Regions from separate parts of the Homo sapiens genome. Here region 1 is reported to be linked to region 2. The links are microRNA targets in miRTarBase. Many come from high-throughput screens and were not tested one by one. Region 2 holds a microRNA gene; the other region holds the end of a gene's coding sequence.

The links. Region 2 holds the annotated microRNA hsa-miR-297 (AUGUAUGUGUGCAUGUGCAUG, at 1,058-1,078, shown strand). A microRNA usually pairs through its seed, bases 2 to 8, with sites in the 3' UTR of a target mRNA and lowers its output. Matches are read on the target gene's strand: a 7mer-m8 pairs with bases 2 to 8, a 7mer-A1 pairs with bases 2 to 7 and ends in A, and an 8mer does both.
Region 1: the mRNA of PAPSS2 is a reported target of hsa-miR-297. Seed matches in the 3' UTR shown: 8mer at 2,452-2,459.

The regions. Positions count from the first base shown.
Region 1 is chr10:87,745,488-87,748,601 of GRCh38, reverse strand. It overlaps PAPSS2 (3'-phosphoadenosine 5'-phosphosulfate synthase 2), which reads right to left. Exons shown (of 13, transcript NM_001015880.2): 13 at 897-2,770. The coding sequence ends at 2,632. Among named protein-coding and RNA genes, the nearest start is that of ATAD1, 71 kb to the left of the region's middle.
Region 2 is chr4:110,858,434-110,861,701 of GRCh38, reverse strand. It overlaps MIR297 (microRNA 297), which reads left to right and starts at 1,055; the gene lies at 1,055-1,120.

The sequences.
Region 1 (3,114 bases), not on the chromosome of region 2:
CCGCAACAGGCCCCGGTGTGTGATGTTCTTCTCTGTGTGTCCATGTGTTCTTATTGTTCACCTCCCACTTACTAGTGAGAATATGCAGTGTTTGGTTTTCTGTTCCTATGTTAGTTTTTTGAAGGTGATGGCTTCCAGCTTCATCCACGTCCCTGGAAAGGACATGATCTCATTCCTTTTTGTGGCTGCATAGTATTCCATGGTGCATATGTACTACATTTTCTTTATCCAGTCTATCATTGATGGGCATTTGGGTTGGTTCCATGTCTTTGCTATTGTAAACAGTGCTGCAATAAACGTGTACATGTGTCATTATAGCAGAATGATTTATATTTCTTTGGGTATGTACCCAGTAATGAATCCCAGCTACTCTTGCTTGAACCCAGGAGGCAGAGGTTGCAGTGAGCCAAGATTGCACCACTGCAGGCAAAAAAAAAAAAAAAAGAAAAACAAGAAAAAAGGCAGGGTGCAGTGAGCTTGTAATCCTAGCACTTTGGGAGGCCGAGGCAGGTGGATCACAAGGTCAGGAGTTCAAGAACAGCCTGGCCAACATGGTGAAACCCCATCTCTACTAAAAATACAAAAATTAGCCTTGCGTGCTGGTGCATGCCTGTAATCCCAGCCACTCAGGAGGCTGAGGCAGGCGAATCACTTGAATCCAGGAGGTGGAGGTTGCAGTGAGCCGAGATCGTGCCACAGCACTCCAGCCTGGGTGACAGAGCAAGACTTCGTCTTTAAAAAAATAAAAAATAAAAAAGACATGAATAAGGGTAAATAATCTCAGTTATGATGTTCAAGAGAGTTGCTGCTGTCTCACTCCAATTATACAAAGTCACAAAGCCCTTAAGTTGTGTGGTCAACCCACACCCAATGGTACAGGCAGAAAAAACTCAGCCTTCACTCTGATAAATTTATTAAAATAAGAACAAGCATCAGTTGTACATAGAAATAATCATTTGCACTAAGCATGGTACTAGAGCAGAAGAGCAGTTTTAAATGTATTTTTTAAGTCACAAAATATATCGGTTAAGGCACTATAATCCTGTCTCATGTTTTCAATAAATATGCTGGTTTTTTTTTTTAAAGGCAGTAGTGAGTAACCGATTACATGAGTATAGGCACTATACTATTAAAGACAAACTGCTGTGGCCATTGTGTGTAACTTATTCTCAAAAGAACTTTTGTTAGTTAAGATTAGTGTTTTTTAAGAATGAGAATATGAAAATTGTCACAGTTTTCTCTTTCTAATTTAGGTCTCTTCCAGAGAGACCTATATATTAAAAGGTGCTGTTTCTTCACTTTATTCCTTGGCAACAATGAATTATGCATAAAGTAAAAACATTGCCTCTCAGGAAGTAAAGCCATCAGAAGATGTCTCAGAACAGCTTGAAATCTTTGGAATAGCTTTTTTTTTTTTTCAACTGCAATAAAATCAGTGCAGTTCAGAAAACTCGACCTTTCAGTATCCGAGAAGGCAGCTTTGTAAGCACTTTCTGTTCGAGGAACTTTGTTAAGCAGCTGAGGGGAATCTGACCCAGCTCCTGTGTTGTCTGGTGTAGACAGGGCACCAGACTGGGAGTCAAGTGGCCTGGGTGCTTCTTCACTGCCACCAGCACTTCCTAATAATGGCAAATTTACATTTTGTTACGGTGCTCACAGCTTACAAAACACATACATGTGCATCATCACAGTTTGTTCACCTGTAAGATGAAAGGGTTGGATTCTTTGTTTTCTGTGGTCTTTTCCAGTTCTAGTGCCTTGCTAGTCTGATAGTGTGAATTATTTTTTATTACAGCTGGCGCTGCTGCTGCATCAGGGCCATCCTTTCTGCAAGACACAATGACCACAGCAAAGAGCGGGAAAGATAACTTTCCACGACATCGCCACATTGTTTGACGTCCTTTCATCAAATCACTGTATGCTATTAAAAGTCACCGTGTAACTGGAGTTACATTATTCACAGAGGCCATTAAGACTTCTCTTATTAGACAATATAACTTTTGTGACAGAAATAGGCTGCACAGATCTCTAAGATAAAATTCACGTTATTGCACATTTTGTTTCTCCAGTCAGGTCTTCAACACGTAAGATATGATTACAACATTAAGGCTTTGTACAGCATGAGGTAAAATATCAGGAAGAATCTTGATGTGAGCCACACCTCTTTTAGAGTGAGAAAAAAAAATTTTTTTTTTTGTCAATTGTACAGAAGAGGACACAATCTGATATATTTTACAACTGATAAATGACATTGGAAGAGTACAGGTTGTCAAGACATGCTGGAAAATATATTCACTTTTCAGCAAGTAACTAGACACATGGTCAAACAAAGCCTTAAGAAATCTGGGACCTGCCTGCTCAGGTGCAGTAGAAAATACATAGAGCTAATTTTATTATGAAATGTATAAGAATATTGCTTTTACCTGCTAAGATTTGGTCTTCAGTTTGACTTTGTATGTATATGTGTGTGTGTATATATATATATTTTTTTTTAATTATAGACACAACTTTTACTTCATTATAAAAGATTAAAATGCATCATTGAGAAGCAATTTAATACAAAGCATCTAATCATAAAAATAGAAAAGGTAATCAAAGAGCACTTCAGAAAGAAACTCTGGAGCCAAAGGCTTAGTTCTTCTCCAGGGACCTGTAATAATCTGTCAGGACCTTCCATGCTTTGGGGGCCATGAAGCCATCTGGGGGATTCTCTCCTTCCCGGGCGAGCTTCCTCATTCGAGTTCCTGAGATGAAGTCAAACTCATTGTGCCTGTTACAGGGTGGCAACAAAGAACTCAGTGTAGGTAAATGATATCTGCCTTAAGGATTCCTGGAGTAGGTTATGGTTTTTGAGACCCATGTTCTTTCTGTAAAATGCTGCATCTTCAAAAGTGGGCAGTCCTCTAAATCTTCAGGAACTTGCAGAAGAGAAGGGAAATAATGGCAGCTATCCATTTAGTATTTGCCATGCGCCTATACTGTTCCTGGGAAGTGTCTTGAGCCCAGAGTCTGTCTTCTGTTTCTCTGCCTACTTCTGTGAACCCTCAGCATGAGGAGCAAGTGCACCATAAATATTCATTGCAATCTCTTTCTATGTTGCTTCCTTTCACTTAG
Region 2 (3,268 bases):
TTTTTTTTGAAACAGAGTCTTGCTCTGTCGCCCAGCCTGGAGTGCAATGGTGCGATAGGGGCTCACTGCAACCTCTGCCTCCCGGGTTTAAGTGATTCTCCTGCCTCAGCCTCCAGAGTAGCTGGGATTACAGGCACCCACCACCATGCCCAGCTAATTTTTGTATTTTTAGTGGAGACGGGGGTTCACCATGTTGATCAGGCTGCTCTTGAACTCCTGACCTCAAGCAGTCCACCCACCTCAGACTCCCAAAGTGCTGGGATTACAGGCATGAGCCACTGCGCCCAGCCCAGTTTTCCATTCTTAATCAGTAGGCTCTTGTTTGAGAATATTTTATTCTTAATGATGGTATTACTCATTTTTGTACTTTATACAATGGAGTACTTCGTGTTTGGAATGGCTTCCTTGTCCATATCTTTGTAAGGTTGAGGCCAATTTTTCTGAAGGTCTAAAGATCAGGCCCAAAAGAGAGACCACATAATCACTTTGCGTTCCTTCCTCAGTAATCTCCACAACTCATTTTGTGTCAGAAATTCACCACTGCACAATAACAGGCCAACAGTGGCCAGAGTTGGCTCCCATGCTGTAAGGTTGGAGGAAGGACACACCAGGCTTCCTAAGTACTTCACACAAGGCTGCCAAAGGATTAGCTGGATGTTCCTGTGCCAGGTTCACTTAACAGGAACATGGCAAGTTGTGGAGACTAATTGGTTCTCACAGGTATTTGGGGTAATGTAAAAATACAACTGCAGGAAAGGCAATTTCCCCCTAGAATGTGACTTGCTCCTGTAAATACAATATATTTTACAGGTTTTAATGCATGTGAAATATTTATCATTGGCATGAAAATTTAAAATATATACCATTTTCCCTTTCATGCCAAAGGGCTTCTATACCCATCACAATTAAAATTAAATATGGAGTAATAGCATAGCTTTTTACTCTGATTCCCTTTTCCCCATTTTGTAAATTCACAGCTTTAACCCATGGCCACCTGCCTGAACGATGGCTTATTTCCAACTCAAGATCTCTTTCTACATACTTTATGAACATATGTATGTATGTGTGCATGTGCATGTATGTGTATATACATATATATGTATTATGTACTCATATATCAAGGAGATTTCATTTCTATTTTTAATCTATGGTATAACTTCTGCATTGATCATATAGTCATGAACCACACGAAAAAGTTCCAGTCAACGACAGACCACAAATGTGACAGTTGTCCCATAAGAAGAAAATGGAGCTGAAAAATTCCTATCACCTAATGGCGTCGTAGCCATCATAATGTAATAGCAAATGCATTACTCATGCGTTTTTGGTGATGTTGGTGTAAATAAACCTACAGTGCTGCCAGTCATATAATATTACAGCACATACAATTATCCACAATACATAACACTTGATAATGACGAATATGTTACTGGCTTATATATTTACTATAGTAAACTTTTATTGCTATTTTAGGGTATACTGCCTCAACTTATAAAAAAAAAGTTAACTATAAAACAGCCTCAGGCAGGTCCTTCAGGAGGTATCCAGAAGAAGGCATTGTTATAGCAGATTACAGCTCCATTTGTGTTACTATTTCCAGTTTTCCACTCTTAATAGAGCTTCTACTGGGACAAGAGGTGGAGATGGAAGGCAGTGATACTGATGATCCTGACCCTGTGTAGGCCTAGGCTATGTGTATGTTTCTGTCTTAGTTTTTAACAAGAAAGTTGAAAAAGTAAAATATATATATATATATATGATCTTTGAAATAGAAAAAAGCTTATAGAATAAGAATATAAAGAAAGAAAACATTTTTGTACAGCGATACAATGTGTTTATATTTTAAACTAAATGTTATTACAGAAAGAGTCAAAAAGTAAAAAAATACAAGTTTATAAAGTAAAAAAGCCATGGTAAGCTAAAGTTAATTTATTATTTAAGAAAGAAGATTTTTTTTTAATTTAGTGTAGCCTAGTTCACTGTGTTTATAAAATCCACAGTAGTGGACAGTAATGTCCTAGGCCTTCACCTTCACTCACCACTCACTCACTGATTCACCCAGAGCAACTTCCAGTCCTACAAGCTCCATGCATGGTAAGTGCCCTATACAGGTTTACCATTTTTTGTCTTTTATACCATATTTTACCTTTTATATGTTTAGAAATGTTTAGATACACAAATGCTTGCCATTGTGTAACAGTTGCCTAAAGCATTTAGTACAGTAACGTGCTGACTGAATACTTATTCAGAATTCTGCTATTTCTGTTGGAGTGCTGCATCATAGTCCTCAGAGGCACACAGATCTCACTACCTAGGGTCTACAGGCATCAAGTCATAGGTCTGAGAGAGAGATTGAAGGATTAAAAAGAAGAGGGGCAAAGAGAAATTAGAGTCTAAAAGGGGAAAAGGGATCACATTTGCCAGCCCCACTCTATCTCCAAATGTCTTTTCTGATCAATCTCATAATCAATTGATAATAAAAGTAGCCAAAAGATTATACTAACTATATATCTAACCCTTAAATAAAAATCACTCTCTGCCAGGAACTATTCTAAGCTCTTTATAATAATAACACATTCCATCCTTATAACAACTTTATGACAAATTATAAATTGCCCCATTTTATATACCTTAAACTTTCCTTCTCACATCTCATTATTCTAAGCTAATCTAAAGAAATGTCTTATTTTCTTTAATTTCAAAGCAGATATTTCAGCAATACTCTTTTCCTCGCCACACCTTTTTGGGCCACTAAGAAGAAAACTAACTTGTGCCCCCTTTGAGTCCTTTCATTGAAGGAAACTTTGGGAGGCAAATAGAGCCATAACATCTGCCTATGGGCTTTCGACTGAAGTACTGGGTACTAAATCTCATCTCCCACATGGGAAGTCAGTTCCTGACTTGGGGTCAGGAAAGAATGAGAGGGAATCCCCTCAGCGGCTCCATAAATTATCTACCTATATGCACACACAGCATTCAAGGAGTCAAGAGTGCCACACATTCAGAATATGAAAATAACAGCAACAACAACATTTGATCTGAATTTATTTTTTAAACAAGAAAGAAAAGTATTTGATCTGAATATTAAAAAGGAATTAAAGGCCGGGTGCTGTGGCTCACACCTGTAATCCCAACACTTTGGGAGGCTGAGGTGGGTGAATCGCTTGAGCCCAGGAGTTGGAGATCGGGCTGGACAACAAAGTGAGACCCACTTTCTACAAAAAAATACAAAAATTAGCCAGGCATGGTGGCACACGTGTATGGTCCC